2 separate regions of the Homo sapiens genome follow, and region 2 is linked to region 1. The links come from fine-mapping of genetic effects on gene expression. A gene starts in region 1. The other region holds a variant in brackets. All regions are shown on one strand. Distances are from middle to middle.

The links. PIP is the estimated chance that this variant, and not a neighbour inherited with it, causes the effect.
Region 2: its variant is fine-mapped to the expression of HLTF in thyroid (GTEx, PIP above 0.99).

The regions. Positions count from the first base shown.
Region 1 is chr3:149,079,765-149,093,226 of GRCh38, reverse strand. It overlaps HLTF (helicase like transcription factor), which reads left to right and starts at 6,694. Exons shown (of 25, transcript NM_003071.4): 1 at 6,694-6,910; 2 at 8,338-8,545. The coding sequence starts at 6,891. It overlaps HLTF-AS1 (HLTF antisense RNA 1), which reads right to left and starts at 6,895. Exons shown (of 3, transcript NR_046648.1): 1 at 6,749-6,895. RefSeq lists enhancers at 6,332-6,849, 6,735-6,944, 6,850-7,367.
Region 2 is chr3:149,134,899-149,142,898 of GRCh38, reverse strand. HPS3 (HPS3 biogenesis of lysosomal organelles complex 2 subunit 1) reads right to left here. Exons shown (of 17, transcript NM_032383.5): 2 at 2,401-2,895; 3 at 1,711-1,882; 4 at 1,519-1,604. Among named protein-coding and RNA genes, the nearest start is that of HPS3, 9.3 kb to the right of the region's middle. The variant T/G (reference allele first, on the strand shown) is at 3,945.

The sequences.
Region 1 (13,462 bases):
TCCCAGCTCCTTGGGAGGCTGAGTTGGTAGGGCAGCCTGAGTTGAGTCTAGTTTGGGCAACATAGTGAAACCTATTTTCTAAGAAAAAAGAAAACCAGTGAATTACTACTACGATGTAATTGCTCACTTTCTAGGCTGGGTGCAGTGGCTCATGCCCGTAACCCCAGCACTTTGGGAAGCTGAGGCAGGCAGACTGTTTGAGCGCACGAGTTTGAGAACAGCCTGGGCAACATGGCAAAACCCCATCTCTACAAAAAACACAAAAGTTAGCCAGGCGTAGTGGCGTGCACCTGTAGTCCCAGCTACTCGGGAGGCTGAGGCACGAGAATTGCTTGAACCCAGGAGGCGGAGGTTGTAGTGAGCTAAACGCACCACTGCACTCCAGTCTGGGCAACAGAGCAAGACTCTTGTCAAAAAAAAAAAAAGGTAGTATTTCTTATATCAAAAGGGCATTTAGAGTTGAAGTTTTAATGTTCTAGCCATAAAGGAGGCAGAAAGCCTGGGCGTGTGGCTCATGCCTGTAATCCCAGCACTTTGGGAGGCCGAGGTAGGAGCGTAGGAGGATCACTTGAGCCCAGGAGTTCAAGACCAGCCTGGGCAACCTGTCTCTCCAAAAAAAAAACGAACAAACAAAATTAGCTGGGCATGGTGGTGTATGCCTGTAGGCCCAGCTACTTGGGAGACAGGTAGGAGGATCAATTGAGCCCAGAAGTTTGAGGCTGCAGTGAGCTTGTTTGTGCCACTGCACTCCAGCCTGGGCATCAGAGCAAGACCCTGTCTTAAAAGAGGAAAAAAAAAAAGGAGGCAGAAAAAATGTTTATTAATCCTTGCAGTTTTCATTAAAATAAAAAGATTACTTTGGTATGGCCATGACAGAAACCCTAAATCATTCCAGGGCCTAGAGTGGTACTTCCCTGAAGCTGGGGAAAGGACCCTGGGCAGAAAGCAAAGGAGGGGGCAGATCCCTGGCTGGCCTGATGCCTTGCAACCCTGGGCTTGAGCCACATAAGAGCATTTAGTGAGTCAAGGCCTAAAGGAGGAGGGAACAATTATCTCCTGGGAAAGGGCTATATAATCTGGAACACCACAGATTTCTCAGACGCGGAGTTGAGATTAGAGTGTCTCCTACCGCTTGATGAAACAATTCAGTCTACTTCAAGGACGTGCACCTGGAAAAATGACTGGCTTCTGGAAACAGTGTTATTCTGCTATTTAGGAACAACCCTGCTGATTGAGCCTCAATAAGGAAAATAGGCCTCAATCAACCATATTTCTTAAGTGCTAGAGGACTCGTTAGACAATAACTCTATTACAACAATAAGAGCACTTACTGAGTGCTTACTCCAGGGCAGCACTTCATATTCATTATATTATTTAATTAAGAAGATTTTTACTTGGCATTAATTTAATATCACTTTGGCCCTGTCAGCTGTGGTTTTACTCAGGATTTTGTCCAAAATCTAGAGAAACCTGATTATAAGAAAATTTAATAAGTCACAAAATATTATATTTTCTTTTCCACTGCATTGTCTTGGTTATTTAAAAAAATGGTTCAGAAATAGTATTGTACCAATGTTCATATCCTCATTTTGGTCATTGTACTATAGTTATGTACGGTATTAAAATAAGTGGCATAAAGGATATGAGGCAACAATTTGTACTAAATTTGTAATTTTCTGTAAGTCTACAATTAGATAAAAATAAAGCTGAATAATAGTTCATCATTTCTTTAATAAATTACTCATTTTATTTTATTATGGCAAAAAGAAATACATGTTTAATGTAGCAAATATTTTATATACATATAAGTAAAAAGAAGAAAATGAAAATTCCCTAATTTAACCAGCTAGAGGTATTTACTATAAATATCTAGGTATATCTTCATCAAGATGTGTGCATATGGACATATAGCATGTATGAATTTCAATCACTGACTATATTTGCAAATGTAAAACTTTATATTTCTTTATTGAACTTAATTTTTCTTAAACCTTCATTCTGCCTAATGGCAGGTAACCTAATTTAGTCACTTCTGAATAGTTCAGTCATTTTAAGATTTAAAGTCATTTAAATTCAGCTTTCAGATTTAGTTCCCTTCGTCTTACCCACCAGGGAGGTTATATTTGGACTCCATTCATCTAATGCAGTCACCCATTGCAGATGTAACTCATCTCACCTCACCGTTGGGGACCAGCATCCTGCTTTTGTTTGCTAGAACCATAATCCTGATGATGCCCTCCAGCCTTCACAGGGCTAGAGGCTCACAAGGCTACCCCGGGTCCCCTTAACAGAGCCACCTCAGTCACCTTTACTCCTTTATTGCCTTGGCACATTTCTAGTCTCTGAGGTTCTCTCTGAGATCTGCAGAATACTGAGGCCACTCTCTGGGAAATGTGGCATAGCTTCCTTTTCTTGTGTAATCTACAGAAACTTTGCTAGACTTTCTAGCATTCTCCCTTTGTGCAGATTGGCCCAGTGTGATGGTATTCTAGGTCTTCTCTCTAAGACCCACTTAAGGGATTTACTCTGCAAACCCTCCTGCCTGACATTCTTGAAAATTCTCCTCAATTGAACTTTTATCTCCTTTGGAGTGAAAGAAGCGAACAAACAAGCAAGCTCTTACATCATCCTACTTTCTTCAGTCTATGAGTTATGATATAAGCTTAAAAGTTTCTGTATTGAAGCCAGATTTCTAGATATTCAGATTCTTCTCTTAAAGCCCCTCCCTGCTGCCTGGTCCCTGCCCCCACACCAATGGCTTTAAAATTCTATTTTGCAAAGTGTAAAAAACATTTTTTTTTGAGAGGGAGTCTCGCTGTGTCACCCAGGCTGGAGTGCAGTGGAACGATCTCGGCTCGCTGCCATCTCCGCCTCTTGGGTTCAAGTGCTTCTCCTGCCTCAGCCTCCCAAGTAGCTGGGACTACAGGTATGGCACCATCACCCCCTGCTAATTTCTGTATTTGTAGTAGAGACAGGGTTTCACAATGTTGGCCAGGCTGGTCTTGAACTCCTGGCCTCAAGTGATCTGCCCACCTCGGCCTCCCAAAATACCAGGGTTACAGGCGTAAGCCACCACACCCAGCCTAGAAAAGGCCTAGAAAAAGTGGCTCACGCCTGTAATCCCAGCACTTTGGGAGGCCAAGGCGGGCAGATTGCTTGAGCTCAGGAGTTCGAGACCAGCCTGGCCAATGTGGCAAAACCCCCTGTCTACAAGAAATACAAAAATTAGCCTGGGGGTGGTGGTGCCATGCCTGTAATCGCAGCTACTTGGGGGCTGAGGCTGGAGAATCGCTTGAGCCCAGGAGGTCGAATCACGCCACTGCACTCCAGCCTGGGCTACTGGAGTGAGACCCTGTCTCAAGAAAAAAAAAAATTTTTTTTTTGAGACAATTGTGAACATTTGATTATGAACTAGTTATTAGAAGATACTAAGAAGTGATTTGTTATTAATTTTGCCAGGTCCATGGTTTTTAGAGAAATTAGTGAAGGCCATTATAGGCAGGGTGGGTTGGGAAGTGACCCGAGAAATGAAGCTACTGTGGGAGGAAGAGCCACATATGCCATTCTTGGATTTCAGGCTCACTGAATCAAACGGGAGTGACATGACATGATTAATTTGCATAAAGGTTCTGTGTGTGTGTGTGTGTGTGTGTGTGCACGGGCATGTGTGTGTGTGGCTAGGGGTGCAGATGAGAAGTGTGTTTGTGACTGGGAAGTGGCTGGCTGGAGAAATTTTGGATTCCTTTCCTTTCCATACCATTCCTACCTAAATTTATCAGTGAACATTTTGGTTCTCTTGGCTTCATCACCTTCCCTTTCCAAGCCACCACCATCTCTTATCTGAACACAATAATTTTCTATCAGTTGCTTCTATCCTTGTTTCCTGTAATTCTCCACAGAGCTGCCAGCATTTTTAAAAGCCTAAATCAAGTCGTTATCCTCCTGCTCGAAACATTCAATGGCTTTCCATTGCAGTTAAAACACAAATTTTACTGGAGACTCTTAAGTTCCTATGTAACCTGGCCCTTATCTTCCCCACCGTCCTTTTAGTGCCACTTTCCTTCTTACTCACCAGCCAAACCCCACAAGCCACCCTACAGTTCATTTTCCAGTTACAAGTGTTCATTTTTCATATCTACTTGTGATGCTGTTATCAGAATAAATCAAGAAAAAACCAAAAAAGTTAATTTTTCAGAAAACATTATTTAGTATAATAGTTTTGAAATTGTAATTGCTGTAACATTTTAATCAAACTAGTACAAATTGTACTTGATCTTTAAATATAAAACAAAGAATGATTAAGGGAAAGAATGTTTTACTCCTGGTTCTGGGATGTGAAATATTGATAACATAGAGAAAACATACTGTGGGAGGAAGAGCCACATATGCCATTCTTGGATTTCAGGCTCACTGAATCAAACAGGGGAGTGACATGACATGATTAATTTGCATAAAGGTTCTGTGTGTGTGTGTGTGTGTGTGTGTGTGTGCGCGCGCGCGGGCATGTGTGTGTGTGTGGCTGGGGGTGCAGATGAGAAGTGTGTTTGTGACTGGGAAGTGGCTGGATGGAGAAATTTTGGATTCCTTTCCTTTCCATACCATTCCTTTAAATAGCAAATTTTAGTTCATTCAAAGCACATTCTTTAACCATGGGACAGTCATTATTCATAGATCTTAAGTCTTTTTATTTTTTTGAGATGGAGTCTCGCTCTGTTGCTCAGGCTGGAGTGCAGTGGCTTGATCTCGGCTCACTGCAACCCATGTCTCCCTGGTTCAAGCGATTCTCCTGCCTCAGCCTCCCAAGTAGCTAGGACTACAGGTGCGTGCCACCACGTCTGCTTAATTTTTGTATTTTCTTAGTAGAGTCAGGCTTTCACCATGTTGGCCAGGCTGGTCTCGAACTCCTGACCTCAGGTGATCCACCCAACTCGGCCTCCCAAAGTGCTGGGATTATAGGTGTGAGCCATTGCGCCTGGCCAGTCTTAAGTCTGAAAGAGCTATGTTCTCATATTTGGAATTTTTTCTTTGTCTAGTGAGCATGACTTTCTTACTCTTACAAAACATCAATTTGAGCAATTTCTGGCATATTTTCCAAGAATTTATTTAAAATCTGGCATACTAAAAGCTGAACTGTATTGCCATTTGCCTCAACACACTTCAAGAAGAACATACAACAATTAAAATAATTTGAAATGCCATTGTCTTTATCTTCCTCATCAACTTTGGTCAAATGAAATAATACATTGTTTCAAATTCTATTGCTCATCCATGGTTCATGATTAGAGATCACTACAGTTTATTTACGATAATGAACAAATGTGTCTTGAAAAGCTGACTACCGGCCTGGCACGGTGGCTCATGCCTGTAATCCCAGCACTCTGGGAGGCCGAGGCGGGCGGATCACCTGAGGTCAGGAGTTCAAGACCAGCCTGGCCAATATGGTGAAACCCCGTCTCTACTAAAAATACAAAAATTAGCTGGGCGTGGTGGCGGGCTCCTGCAATCCCGGCTACTCCGGAGGCTGAGGCAGGAGAATCGCTTGAATCCGGGAGGCGGAGGTTGCAGTGAGCCAAGATCACCCCCATTGCACTCCAGCCTGGGGGACAGAGCAAGACTCCATCTCAATAAAAAAGAAAAAAAAACAAAAAAAAGAAAAAAGAAAAGCTGACCACCTAATATTATTGTGCTGACAGGCGTGTAACATGGACCTCTCTGTGACGCGCAAGTATTATCTGGCAGTTACATGGTGCCGCCTGTGCAGCTGGGCGCCACCACCAGCTTCCTGCCCTGTGCGATTAAAAGGCCAGCTTCGGGGACAGCAGCCTCCTCAACGCAAAGCGACCAGCCCTGCCAGGCGTCGGCTGCAGCTGGTCCAAGGTTGACGGTCCCAGGGCCGCATTCTCCTTCCGGTCACCTCAGACTCTGGAAAGAGAGCCATGGAGGGCCTCAGAGCGCCCCTCTGCAGTTCCTTGAGGAAAACAAGGGCCTCCCCCTCTTGGCTGGAGCAGCCAAGTGCCCACGGGGAAAATGGTCCCGTCCACCATTTCAGGCAAACGCCCCCATAGCTGTAATAAACATGTGATGGGTTTCCTGCACCAAGAAAGGAAAATTTTCCTTAAAAATAACAAAAAGAGGTGGGGAGGGGACTCTAAGTTCCATTTAAGATTTTCCAAACTCGTTGTGTCTCATGCATACGCTGAGGCTTAACATGAAAATTTGGAGCGAAAGTCCCCACGGTTCACCACAGGGAATGAAGTAAAGTATCTCGCCGGTAGCTCTAGGTCTCGTAAACCGTGGAGCTCCTTTAGTATAAGGCCCTATTATGTGCCACATTAGATGAGAAGAAAATAAGAGGAAGGATACGGTAGAGCCTTTAGAATGGGGTTCAGTCTTAGGACTCGTAGGATAAAGGAAGGTCGTTTCCCTCCGTTTGAGGCAGGGAATCAAACAAAACACCGGCACCGCAGGCACCGCAGTCGCACTCCTGGGGCCTCGTGGCTTTCCCGCGCGCCCGCCTTGGGGGCGGGGAAGAACCCGGATGGAACCACCCTTGCAGCCCGGACCCCCCGCCGTCTTTGAATGGCAGCGGGGCGGAGTTGCCCTCCCTTCTGTGCTCTGACTGGTTTGGCTCCGCACTCTCCTCTTCGTGATTGGGCTTTCCTAGTGCCAGTCACAGAGCGACGCTGGTCTCCCAGATTGTTGCAGAAGGAGACGGCGTCGACGTCTGACTGGACTCGCGGCGACTTACCTTTCAGTCGTGCGCTCCTGATCCGGCGCTCGGAATTTGTCCCCGGCTTCAGGGCTGCGGGGCCTGGAAGGAGGCGTATCGAGGCGGCTCGAAAACGATCCAGGGGAGCCGAGGCGCTCCTCTTGTCATCCCACTCAGCGCCATGTCCTGGATGTTCAAGAGGTGAAGGGGGCGGAGGGGGTGGGGCGCTCGGTCTAACGGCCTGGAGGCGTCCCCAAATGAACCTGACCTTCCCCGCGTTCCTCTGCGTTCCCTGGGCGATTTGTGCAGCTGTATTCGTTCTGTTGGTCGCATATGTGGCCGCCGGAGAAATAAATGCATTGTCTTCGCTGGCGAGTAGGGGCTCCTAGGGCGAGTCCCGTGTTAGGGACTTGGGAAATCTCTGTCACCGACTGTGGGGGGCCTGGGGCTTAAAGCATCTCGGCCAGTGCTTTATTTAACAAAACATCCATTAGATACCCACTGTGCGCCAGGCATTGTGCTCGGTGGAGGGCCGAGTAAGACAGTCCTTGTCCCCAAGTGGCTCACAGCTTATCTGTATGCACAGACGTGCAGATAAGTATTTGCAGAGGCGCTAGTAGAGATATGCGCCACTTGCAAGGAAAACGCATCGCAAATAAGCGACTGTTCTTAGGAGAATGGAAACTTTTTGCAATGCTCCAGTAGACTCCCCTTCACTTTTCATTGTCCAAATTGGTATTTATGGTCATTCCCGAAACAGTTACACCTAATGGGTTTGGGGTTATGCTTAAACCGGCGACGGAAGGCGGGTACGGGTGGCTTGGGGCCAATTTCCCACGGTGGCGTGGTTTGGATACCAGAATAGGTGTTCTGCTCGCAGGGAGTTACAGTGATGGATGCTGGATGTATTTTCTGGAAAATTATAAACAACTTCTGGTACATTAATAGTTGTATTTTTATAAGTCTTTTATATAGCTCAATCCCTATTGAAATTTTGGCATATGATTTCATTTTTTAAATTATTTTTTTGACATGGAGTCTCGCTCTGTCGTCCAGGCTGGAGTGCAGTGGCACAATCTCGGCTCGCTGCAACCTACGCCTCCCGGGTTCAAGTGATTCTCCTGCCTCAGCCTCCCGAGTAGCTGGGATTACATATGGGCGCCACCACGCCTGGCTAATTTTTGTATTTGTAGTAGACAGGGTTTCACAATGTTGGCCAGGTTGGTCTCAAATTCCTGACCTCAGGTGATCCACCTGCCTCTGCCTCCCAAAGTGCTGGGATTCCAGGCGTGAGCCACCGCATCCGGCCCATAATTGTAGTTACAGACATCATATACATATCAATTTAGATGATTTTCACTGGGAAAGAGGTTAGTGAACTCTGACTAGGCTTTTCATTTTGAATACCTAGGGGGCAGGTAGAAGAGCCAATATTGAAAACAGGTAGAGTTCCTAGAAGCCTTCTCCACTCACTGCAATTCCTGCTTTAACGAGAGTAACTATTAATCTTTACCGTGATTCCCATGTAAGATTTCATTTGCTGAAGTAAAGCATGAGAAAACTACTCATATGGTCTTTGGAAATACTTAAATATTATATTGTTTTTCTTTGCCTTTAAAAAAAAATAGGGATCCAGTTTGGAAGTACTTGCAGACTGTCCAGTATGGAGTTCATGGAAATTTTCCACGCCTCTCATATCCAACTTTCTTTCCACGTTTTGAATTCCAAGATGTTATCCCTCCAGATGACTTTCTAACTAGTGATGAAGAAGTAGATTCCGTTTTATTTGGAAGTTTGAGAGGTCATGTGGTTGGACTACGCTATTACACGGGAGTAGTGAGTATAATAGTAGATAATTAAATTTTGATTATATTTCTGGCGTTAACCTAGAAAATAAGAGAATTCGCAGGTGATGTGTGCGGTTAATCTTTATTTTACTTTAAGTTAGTTAAATATTTGTACGCAAAAAATAACAAATACCTTAAGTGACCCTCCCACCTCAGCCTCCCAGAGTGTTGGGATTACAGGAATGAGCCAATATGCTTGGCCTCAGTGCGTTATGTTTGGTTATTATGGGTAGCACCCCACCCCCACACCCCAGCGCCTTGTTCATGTCATCGATTTGTTGCAAAAAGGAGATCGTTTTGTGGAATCTTCTGGATTTTATTCTTTCATTTCTCCGTATGTTTCTTATGTTTAAGCTTCTCAATAGGGTGTCTGAAGCATGTTCGACAGGAGATTCCTTAGGAGTTTCATGTTCTGGATTTGTTTTTCTCCTGTATTTCCTTTACATTGGAACGTTTCAAATTGTTTTTTGATTGTCTGAAATGTGTTGTCTAGGAGATTCCTTAGGAAGAGACAATATTTCCTAAGTTTTTATATTTTCATACTTGTGGCATTTTATGAATGACAGTTTCATAAAATGAAAGTTATGAAGGACTTAATGACAGTTGGGCTGAATTTAAAATCTTTGTAATATATCTTTGTAATAAAATCTTTGTAATAAAATCTCCATATCCTAATGTTGCATAGAATTCTCAGGCCAGTGTGATTTTCTTTCACTTAAGTGAATTGGATTTTTTTTTTTTTCTTTTTTTTTGAGACCAAGTTTCGTTTTGTTGCCCAGGCTGGAGTGCAGTGGCCTGATCTGGCCTCACTGCAATCTCTGCCTCCCAGACTCAAGCAATTCTCCCAATTCAGCCTCCTGAGTAGCTGGGACTGCTGGCGTTCACCACCATACCCAGCTAATTTTTGTATTTTTTTTTTTTGTATTTTTTTTTAGGTTTTGGCATGTTGTCCAGGCTGATCTGGAACTCCTGGGCTCAAGTGATCCGTCCGCCTTGGCCTCTCCAAGTGCTGGGATGCTGCACCCGGCCTCTAATTTTTTCTAATAGATTCTTGAACTCTATCAGTTCTTATTTCACATCTATATATTCTCTGGCTCTCATATGCATTTCTGAGCTTTTCTGTTTCAGATTTGTGCTAATTTTTCAAAACTTACATTGCTTTCGATAATTATTTTATACCACCATGAAATACTAGATTATGGTAGTTATTGATCTTAGAACAATCAGTATTTTTGATCTGAGAATAATCTCTATGACTTCGGTAAACTCTAGTGTGTGTTGATAAAAAGTAATCATCAGTTTTCTTATTTTGCCAAATATATATACTTTAAATTTTATTTTTTTCCAGGAACACTATGTTGAGATATCATTTATTTTATAATTAATGCATGTTCTTTTATTTGTTTTTGTTTTTTTTTTGAAACGGAGTCTTGCTTGCATTGCCCAGGCTGGAGTGCAATGGTGCAATCTTGGCTCACTGCAACCTCCGCCTCCCAGGTTCAAGCGGTTCTCCTGCAACAGCCTCCTAAGTAGCTGGGATTACAGGCATGCGCCATCATGCCCAGCTAATTTTTTGTATTTAGGAGAGATGAGGTTTTGCCATGTTGGTCAGGCTGGTCTTGAACCCCTGACCTCAGGTGATCCACTCACCTCGGCCTTCCAAAGTGCTGGGATTACAGGCATGAGCCACCGCGCCCAGCCACGTTCATTATTTTTAAATGGCTAAAAAGGCATTAAATCTTCTGAAGTCTATCATCCAGAACCATAACTTATCTTCTACACTTGTTTCTGTGAGCATGTGCATGTAAATTGGAATCATATTATGTATTAATAAAAATGAGATCATATTATGCCTAATGTGATTAGGAATATCATCTATATTGGACTTATAATTTCCTTGTTGATGGACATTTTTGAGTTAATCACTATTATAAAAATAATAAAAATTGAGATACTATCTTTGCATACTTGTTATTTTAATTTTTTTTCTACTTTATTGAGATGTGGTTTACGTATGATAAAATGTACATATTTTAAATGTATGATCCTAGTGTTTTGACAAAGATGTATACCTGATAACTACTACCCCAATCAAGATACAGATTGTATCCGTCTCCCTCAAAGTATCTTGTATCCTATTGCATTCATTTTTCCCTGTTCCTGCCCTAGGCAGCCACGAGTCTCATTTCTTTTCTTTTTTTTTGTTTTTTTTGAGACGGAGTCTCGCTCTGTTTCTCAGGCTGGAGCGCAGTGGCGGGATCTCGGCTCATTGCAAGCTCCGCCTCCCAAGTTCATGCCATTCTCCTGCCTCAGCCTCCCAAGTAGCTGGGACTACAGGCGCCTGCCACCATGCCCGGCTAATTTTTTTGTATTTTTGGTAGAGACGGGGTTTCACCGTGTTAGCCAGGATGGTCTGTATCTCCTGACCTCGTGATCCGCCCGCCTCGGCCTCCCAAAGTGCTGGGATTACAGGTGTGAGCCACTGCGCCCGGCCACACAAGTCTTCTATCACTATAAATAAGTTTTGCCTATTCTAGAACTTCATATACATTGAATTCTACAGTATGTACTATTTTAAGTCTGGCGTTTTTCACTCAGCATAATTTAGGTACTTCTTTGGTCTATTTTGGTTAGTTACATTTTTGAAGAAAAGCATCCATTTTATTTAGATATTCAAACTTATTCCCATAGAATTGTGCATAGTAATCATTTATCCTTATAAAATTGTAACTGTAATTTTCTGGAATTGGGGTTTGGTGGTATGATGTGTTGCTCACAAGTGGCCAGAACTCCTATTCCTGAAGGATTTTGAATTGGAGGAACACATACTTAAACTCCCTTTTATGCCTTGGTTCTAGTTACTCTTTCCAAGTTGAATAACCATTTTTTTGGTTGTTTTAAGTTGGTGCTCTGAACCTTAAATTTCAGTACCCTTTACTCTGAATTGTCAAATTTTGATAAAATGTGCCATTTTTTTAATGTCTGCCAGAACATAATTTTATATGCCTTATTGGCTCCATTAAACTTTTTAAAAACTTTTTTAAAAAGGTGATTATATTCCTGTTTTTATTCTTTGTGTTACACATTCGTGTCTTTTTTATTGATTAGCTATGACATTATTTCTTTTCAAGGCAGGCTCTCTTGAATTTTTCTTAATGATTGTGTTTCTTGGCTTAATAATTACTCTTACATTCGGTTTTTCTACTTAGATTTATTTTCTTTTCATTTCTGTTGGACTTGCGATTTGAGCACTTAATTTGAGTCATTTAATCTTTTAATCTTTAAACGTGTTAAGTATTGCGTTGCCTTTAGCCACCACGTTTTGTTATGTAGTAGCATTCTTTATTTTTAACTCTGGTGTTTTCTTATTCTTATTTCATTTTTATTTTTTGTTTTTTTTTTTTTAGTGTGTTTTCAATAAGCATATGGTTAAGTTTATTTTTTGACCCATCAAAGGCTTTATTTTATAATGTGGTTTATTTCTTTTTCTATTTTAAAATACAGTTATGTGTTGCTTAACAATGAAGATACTTTCTGAGAAAAGTGTTAGGTGATTTCTTTGTGGAAACAGAGTGAACAAGATGTTACTTTACTGAATACTGTGGGCAATTGTAACACATTTGTGTATTTAAGCATATATAACATGAAAAAAGTACAGTAAAAATATTGTATAAAATATGAAAAATGGTACACTTCTATAGGGCAGCCCCATTATAATCTTGTGGAACAACTGTTGCATAATGCATGTGGTCTGTCATTGCTGAAATGTTGTTATGCGGGGTATGACTATACTGTTATGATTAATTCTCATTCCTTTTGTTATTCTTGTCTTTGTCTTTTTGTTTTTTTATATGTCCTGTTTTTTCTTGCTGCTGGGACCATGTTTTTGTTTTTATAGTCTCCAATATTTTGGCTCATATATATTTTATTTAAAATTCTAGTAATTACTTATTTGTAACGACAGTTAACTAATTGTAATTAATGATAGCTTATTATGATAAATTACAATTATGTAATACCTTGAGATGAAATGCTCAAAAATTGTTAGTTTTGTGCCCTGCTTTTTTATTTTGGTTATGTATTTTCTAGGATTTGCATAATCCGGTTTAAAAAAGATCATCCTGTAGGCAGTGGCAGAGGGGTGGCGACTGGGAGAGAACATAGCTCTGCCTCATAGATAATATCTCTAAAAGTCTAGAGATGAATATCTGTCTAATACTCTGTTTAGTTCTGGCTGTAATCTCTTGAGTCAGTAGACATGCTGGGAGAGGTTTGAAGCAGCTTTCTTGTATATTTTCAAGGAATTTTTTAAAATTGAGATACATTTATTATAAAATTTACCATTTTAAAGTGTACAGTTGAGTAGTTTTTAGAATACTCACAAGGTTGTGCAACCATCCCTACAATCTAGTTCCAAAACATTTTCATTACTCCAAAAAGAAACCTCATTCCCATTTGTAGTCACTCCCATTATCTCTACCCCTCAGTCCCTGGCAACCATGAATCAGTCTTCTTCCTGTGTATATGGATTTACCTCCTCTTGACATTTCACGTAAATGAAATGATACAATATGTGGCATTTGGGTCTGGCCTCCAATACTCATTTTTATGTTAAATAGATTTTTTTTTTTAGTGTACTATTTTAATTCCCTTGTTTCTTTTACTATATATTTTGAGTTACTTATGATTGCTTTAGGGATTACAATTAACAACTTAATTTATAAGAACCTAGTTTGGATTAGTGCCAACTTAACAGTATATAAAAAACTTTGTGGCTGGGCATGGGGCATGGTGGCTCACGCCTGTAATCCCAGCGCTTTGGGAGGCCAAGGTGAGTGGATCACGAGGTTAGGAGATTGAGACCATCCTGGCCAACATGGTGAAACCCCATCTCTACTAAAAATAC
Region 2 (8,000 bases), 52 kb before region 1:
AAGCCTTCCCTGACCTCAAGATGAGGTCAGGGTCTTTTGTTATAGGCTGTCACAGGGAGGTTTACCACAGATCACTCATTTCAGGGTACAACTGTGAATCTGCCGTTATTCGAATGTCTCCCTTCCCCCACTAGACAATTAGCTCCGTAAGAGCAAGCACTTCACTCACTGTTAGTTCCCTAGTATTCAGCACAATGCTCAACATAGTAGGTACTCAATAAATATTTACTAAAAGAAAAAAAAATGAAGGTTAGAAACACATTTAATCGGAATAATATTTGTATCTTTCTCTAGATAACATCTAAAGATGTTAATCAGGCCAGAACTGAGTGCAGGGCCTATTAGTGATTCTCAATCATGGTGCCCATTAGACTCTTGGGGAGTTTTTAAAAAATACTAATGCCCAGGCCCTGTAACTGATATCTTGCATGTAGAGCCTGAGTATCAATATCTTAAAAAGCATTCAGGTAAGCCCATTGTGTGGCAGGGTTGAAAACAACTGCTCTAAATTATTTTCCATTCAGTCCACATTTTTACACCTAATTCACAAGCCAATCATAAGAAGCTTGGCCAAATACCCAGCTAGAACCCACACATACCTTGGCTCTAACAGGTCTCCAATTTCCTTTTTGGGCCTAGAGGCCATTTCAAAAAGGGAAATGAGTTCAGTCTGTCATGCCTTCTCCATGGCTTCTCCTAGCAGGTATGACTTCCCTTTCTAGTACTCATAGGTATTTGCTAAGGATTTTGGGCCGGGTGTGGTGGCTCACACCTGTAATCCCAGCACTTTGGGAGGCCGAGGTGGGCGGATCAATGAGGTCGGGAGTTCGAGACCAGCCTGACCAACATGGAGAAACCCCATCTCTACTAAAAATACAAAATTAGCTGGGCGTGGTGGGGCATTCCTGTAATCCCAGCTACTCGGGAGTCTGAGGCAGGAGAATCACTTGAACCCGGGAGGTGGAGGTTGCAGTGAGCCAAGATCATACCATTGCACTCCAGCCTGGACAACAAGAGCAAAACTCTGTCTCAAGAAAAAAAATAATAAATAATAATAAAATAGAGGTCGGGTGTGGTGGCTCATGCCTGTAATCCTAGCACTTTGGGAGGCCAACACAGGCAGATCACAAAGTCAGGAGATCGAGACCATCCTGCCCAACATGGTGAAACCCCGTCTCTGCTAAAAATACAAAAAAATTTAGCCGGGCTTGGTGGCGGGCGCCTGTAGTCCCAGCTACTCGGGAGGCTGAGGCAGGAGAATCACTTGAACCCAGGAAGTAGAAGTTGCAGTGAGCCGAGATCGCACCACTGCACTCCAGACTGGCAATAAAGCGAGACTCAGTCTCAAAAAAAAAAAAAAAAAAAAACAAAAAAAAAAACTTTGTTAAAGGGCCACAAGGAGACTCCAGTGGAAGAACCAAACCACCAAACCTATTACCCACATGGGTCTTCACTCCCAGCCCAGACAGAGCATTTTCACCTTGCTGCACTGTCGCACTCCTGCACTGTCATGCTTACCGGTCTGGTAAATGGGTAGCAGCTGGAGGGAATGTAGCTTGATGTCATCAGACAAGACATAGGACGAAATATCAGGAGCAAAACGTCTGTGGGTTTAAAAAGACAGAGAAAGGGAAAAATATAACTTCCATGTACTTTAAGCAGGCATATATACATAAAATGCTGGTAAAAAAAAAAAAAGCACTATAATACCTATAGAGCAGGTGCTGAAAGTGGGAATATTTTCTTTTTTCATCAGCTAATCCCGTAGACTCCAGTGTAACAGATAATCCAGACTGTTCACTTTTTTCACCAAGAAGTTCCAGGGGCTTCTGGCAGATGACAAAATCATCTGACTCAAGCTGTGAAATTTCATTACTGATGCCTTAAAAAAATAAAATGTAACAGTCCTGCTTGAATGAAAATTAGATTTTACAACATCCTCTCACCAATTAGACATATAGTAATTTCATTTATTTATAATATGCACACATTTACAAGGCACTGTGGTTGTGAAAAGACTTAGCACTTGCTCATTTAATCTCCACAACTGATAAAGTACAACAGGGTAGGTATTATCATCCCCATTTTACAAATGAGGATGTTGAAACTCAGAGATGGTATTATTAACCCAAGGTCATTCAACTAGTAACTATGAGGACTAGGACTAGAAGCCCCTCATCTAGCAGTGGTTGTTCCATTACTTCTACTGATAAATATATTCACATGCTACAGAGTAAGCTATGGACAGCCAGATCATAAAACCAAATCCCATGAAATAGGAATAACTAAATCTATAAATAACATGGCCGGGCACCATATATACCACAGACCTTCAGACTGCCAAAGGTGAAGGTTTTCTATATTCCTAAAACAAGAAAGCAAGTCAAATTCATTATTTACCTTCTTCTGTCCGTCTTATTCGATTGTTGGTCTTATGTGGATGGTGGTGAACTCTCTCTCCATTTTTAGGGCCTGACTCCAGTTTTACGATTAAGACTTCTAAGTCTGACATGACAGCAACATATCCAACACAAAAAGAAACCTCAACAGGAGTGATATTATCTATGTGTATAATTAAAGAACGTTCAAAGTCCAATAGTGAGAATTCCTCATTAATGATCTGGTACTTCAAACTAAATAAGACTAATTTATTTGTGCAGCCAACGAGAAGGTCTCCTTTCACAGGGCAACAGGAAATGCACAAGGGGGCCTCCGAAAGCGGCATTTCAATAATGTACATCTGGTCTCTGAAGGCTTTGCTGAATGGTCCCTCCACATTATGCCCAATCATTCGGATACACACACGAGAGTTTTCAGTCCTTTTATTTCTCCAGTTCACATAAGCACGTAGAAATGTAGCTTTGTTTTTCTCTTCAATTGCTACCAAATAATCTCCTGAGAAGGAATGAAGATTATACTGAGAATTTGTAATTAGAAATACAACCACCTCCCTTGCTGACATGAGTACTATTAATGAATTCTAACACAAATGGTCGAATTAAAGACTGAATAGAATAAAACCCTAAGTAACAAAATCTTAGGTGTATTTTTGACTGACATTAGGCTTTGAGGTTCTGAAATGCAATCTCTCCCATCTGAGTGTCTTAAGACAACCTATTAATTGCCCATGTAACATACAGAAAGTTCATATAAGGAATAAAATGTAAAATTAAGTGTTTACTGTAGCTCTAAATCTGCAGTTCTAACAAAGCTCTACTGACACAGAATTCACTATTAGGGTGACACCAAAATTAGGTATACATTAAGGAATTCTCAGATTAGCAGAATTTACATTTCAAACCCTCTCCTTCCCACAAGTCACAAGTCTGAGAAACAGGATAAAGTTGGAAATAGCAAAGAAAATACAGATCCAAGTTAATTTTCTCTAAATTGTTGATTGTATAAGTTTTAACTTATAAACATATATTGGTTGTGGGAAGTCAAAATGGTAACGTGGTAAAGAGATGCAAAATGAAAAGCATAATGATCTCCCCCTTGAGGACCCAATGTTAACACACAGCCTGGTATGTGCCTTTCAACACCTTTCTCTCATATAAACAGAGATCACAGAGAGGTATTCTGTCTTTTTTAAAAATGAACAAAAACTAAAATGTAATCATATTAAATATATTTAACAATCTGCAACTTTTAAAAATTATTAATAAATCTCTCCCTCCAGGCTGATACATGGATATCTAACATCCTTTTCAATATGTTCAACATCCCATATGTACATACATACGCATAATTTATTCAATAATTCCCTTACTGATAAGCATTCAAATATATTTCCAGGGTTTTTTGCCACTATGTTTCATAGTAATACATAGGCTTATATCTATATATTTATTTACTGGGGGATTTATTTTAACGGTACAGATTCCCAAAAGTGAGATATGTTGGGCCAAAGGGCATGGGCATTTTAAATTTCAATATTGCCCAAT[T/G]ACTATCAATTAGATAATAGAAATTCATGTTACCAGCAGCAGTGCTTAAACACACCTGTTTCCCCACATCCTCACTAGCACTGACTCTACACAATGAGAGAAACATGGACTCTCACGGCTATTATAATTTACATTTCCTAGACCTTTTTATAAAGCTGGCCATCTTTTCCTACGTTTATCAGCCATGTATAGTTTCTCTTCTGCATGATGTCCAATTTTTATTAAGTTGTTCATTTGTTTTTCTTATCATGACACTGTAGCTCTCTACTTAAAAGGGATATAAACCTTTTGTCGTCTATAAATAGTAAATGGTTTTAGAGTCTATTTTCTGATTTTGACTTTGCTGATGGCATGTTTTACCATACCCTTTTTATTTAGAGTATACTATATGTATCTTTTCCTCCTTGCCTTCTGAGTTCCCATCCATGTCCTCCAAATTACATAAATATGCTCCTATATTTTCTTCTATTTTAGTGGAGGTTTAGAAAATATACATTTTTAATCTTTAGAATTTTGCGGGTAAAGAAGGAGATAAGTCAGAGGATCTAATGTCACTTCTTCCAAATGTAGACTCTATTATATTAACACTATTAAGCAAATTGGCCCTTTTCCGATGAATTGAAATTGAAATGCTGCCATTACATTGACTTCCCATGTACTTATGAGGCAAGCAAACAGGTGCTGCCCCTTTCTGCAGACATTCACTGGGCTGACCAGGCTCCCTCCTCCAAAATGATCCTGACTTCTACAGGTAGCAAGCTTTCTCCTGATGATGGTTCTTTTTATGCCACAGAGATGGAGCCTGAACCTGTTCTTTCCCTGGAGATCGTAGAATGCCTAAAGAGATCCTGCAGGTGCCCTAAGTTTGTTCACTTTTCCAGGGAAGCAGTTTGGACAGAGTTGGGATGAAGTTGAGGCCTCCATCTTCCTAAAATTCCCCCAGTAAATAAATAAATTTTTTTTATTGTAGTACGATACACACAACATAAAATGTACATTTTCACCATTTTTAAGTCTACAGATCAGTGGCACTGGTATCTTCTCATTGCTATGCAACCATCACTACCATCCATCTCTATAACTAACTTTTTCATCTACTAAAAAACTCTGCACTGATTAAATAATAATTCCCTATTCCTCCCTCTCCCCAGGGTGAGACCACCATTATACTATCTCTATGAATTTGACTACTCTAGGTACCTCATGTAAGTTGAACCATATAGTATTTTTCCTTTTGTATCAGGCTTGTATCACTTAGCATAACTTCTCTAAGATTTATCCAGGTTGTGGCATGCATCAGAATTTCATTAAGGCCAAATAATACTCTATTGTATGTTCATACAATATATTTTATTTACTCATTTACTTGTCAATGGATCCTTGGACTGTTTCCACCTTTTGGCTCTTGTGAATAATTTTGCTACAAACATTGGTGTGCATGTATCCATTCAAGTCCCTGCTTTCAATTATTTTGGGTATACACCCAGAAGTGGAATTGCTGGATCATATGGTAATTCTATGTTTAATGTTTTGAGAAACTGCCATATTGTTTTCCACATAGGCTGTGTTATTTTACATTCCTACCAGCAACGTTTAAGGGTTCCAATTTCTCCACATTCTCCCCAACACGTTAATTTCTGTTTTATTAATAACAGGCATACTAATGGGTGTGAGGTGCTATCTCACTGTGGTTTGGATTTGCATTTCCCTAATTATCAGTGATTTTGAGCATCTTTTCTTATGTTTTTTGCCGTTTATGTATTTTCTTCTTTGTAGAAATGTCTATTCAAGTCCTTAGCCCATTTTTTAATCAAGTTTTTTTGGTTGTTGTTGAGTTGTAAGAGTTCTTTATTGTATATATTCTAGATATTAATCCCTTATGAGATATATGATTCGGAAATATTTTCTCCCATTCCATGTTGTCTTTTCAATCTGTTGATGAGTCTTTTGATATACAACAGTCATTAACTTTGATAAAGTCTAGTTTATCTATTTTTCTTCTGTTGCCTATACTTTTGGTATCATAATTTAGTAAATAAATTTTAAAACTAAGAATATTTAATTACAATAAAACCTTTTTATTCATATACCTATAAATACATGCCCATTTCATCTATAAAATTCATATATTAACTAATGTTTATAGTATGCAAATTGTAGATAGTGTCCATGTTGTATTGTGTGCTTTCAGATTAATGACCTGGTCTTTAAATGATGATCCAGCACTTGCTAAATGTGCCTGCCTGACAATCCTTATGATCAGAGCTTTAGAGTTCCTTCAATTAACTCTCACAACAGCCCTTTAAGATACAAATCTCCCTCCTCATTTTATACATCAGGAATCTGAAGCACAGACAAGCAAAGTAACTTGTCCAAGGCAACACAACGAACAAATTAGGAAACTGGGACTCAAACCTAGATCTGGTTAGCTCAAAAGTTTATGTTCTTTGCCCAGTAATGCTGTTTCCCCAACTGATAGAAGGGAAATACAACTCTACAGGAGTCTGTGGAGGCTATAACCCTTTAAAAGAGAAGGGAACTAAATTTTTTAAGCTTTATGTGTGCAGTGCCTCATTTTACCTTTTTTAAATTTAAGTGTCTTGCTCCGTTGCCCAAGTTGTCTTGGCTCACTGCAACCTCCACCTCCCGGACTCAAGTGATCCTTCCACCTCAGCCTCTCAAGTAGGTGGAACTACAGGTGTGAGCCACCACACTTGGCTAATTTGTGTGTGTGTGTGTATATATATATGTATATACATATATTATAATGTGTGTGTGTATATATATACACACACACATATGTAGAAACAGGGTTTCACTATGTAGCCCAGGCTCAGCTTCTGTCTTTATTAAGTACATTGAAAAATCATTCTCATTTTTACTCTTGAGCTTAGAGTTACTGATTTTTAAAAATAAGTAAACTTTCCCTTTTATGTAGCAAGATCACAAACATGGCTAACAGTAATACCAGATCAAAGGCTGTACTCCTATGACAAAATTGAATCACAAGGCAGAAATAATTTATAAGGCATCTAAATATGTTTTATGACTCCAGGAAAACTGAGAGAAAGTAGGGCTTGTGGGAGGGGTAGATGGGCTGGGGCTGGTTTAGTACACTTGTGCTAATGGCCAGGCAATTACAGCCTTGTGGTCTGCATCCTCCATGCCCCACCACCCCTAGACACCCCATAAACAAGTGTCTACCACCAAAGGTCCCCATACAGCACTCAACCCTGGCCACCAGGTCTTTCTCTTTCAGGAGTGAGGAGTTCTCAGGTCTCCCCTCTTCTTTGCTTTACACACTGTATTAGTCCATTTTCACATTACTGCTACAAGCAAATACCTGAGACTGGGTAATAAAGAAAACAGGTTTAATTGACTCGCAGTTCTGCATGGCTGGGGGGACCTCAGAAAACTTATAATCATGGTGGAAGGCACCTCTTCACAGGGCGGCAGGACAGAAAATAAGTGTGGGTAGGGGAAATGCCAGACACTTAAAAACCATCAGATCTCATGAGAATTCACTATCATGAGAAACAGCATGGGGGAAACTGTCCCCATGATCCAATTACCTCCACCTGGTCCCGCCCTTGACACGTGGGGGTTATGGGGACTACAATTCAAGATGAGATTTTAGCTGAGGACACAGCCAAACCGTATCACACACAAAGCCTAAATTTATTTTCCCTTACTGATGACGATGTCAGAGGTCCCCATCCTTCAAAATTTCTACCTGCTTTCTCCCTAATACCCCCAAATTTTATTTTAAAAACTTTCAGCTAATTTGAGATTTTTTTTAACCTGAAAATGTTTTCTGCTTGAGTAGAGACCTGAAAAGCATTTTTAGTAAACATAGATGGCTGATGTAAGATTCTTTCCATTTTTGAGGAGGAGACTTGCTACAGAGGAGGACACTGGGCATTGAGCCGGAATCCTCATGTCCCAGTTATTGTGAATGGAAGGAAGGGGCCAAAAGGGAAAAGCTGTGAAGTGGAAAACAAGTTATCTGGATACCATCATAGCCAGAGTCAGCTCTATTTATGTTCATTTGTGGGT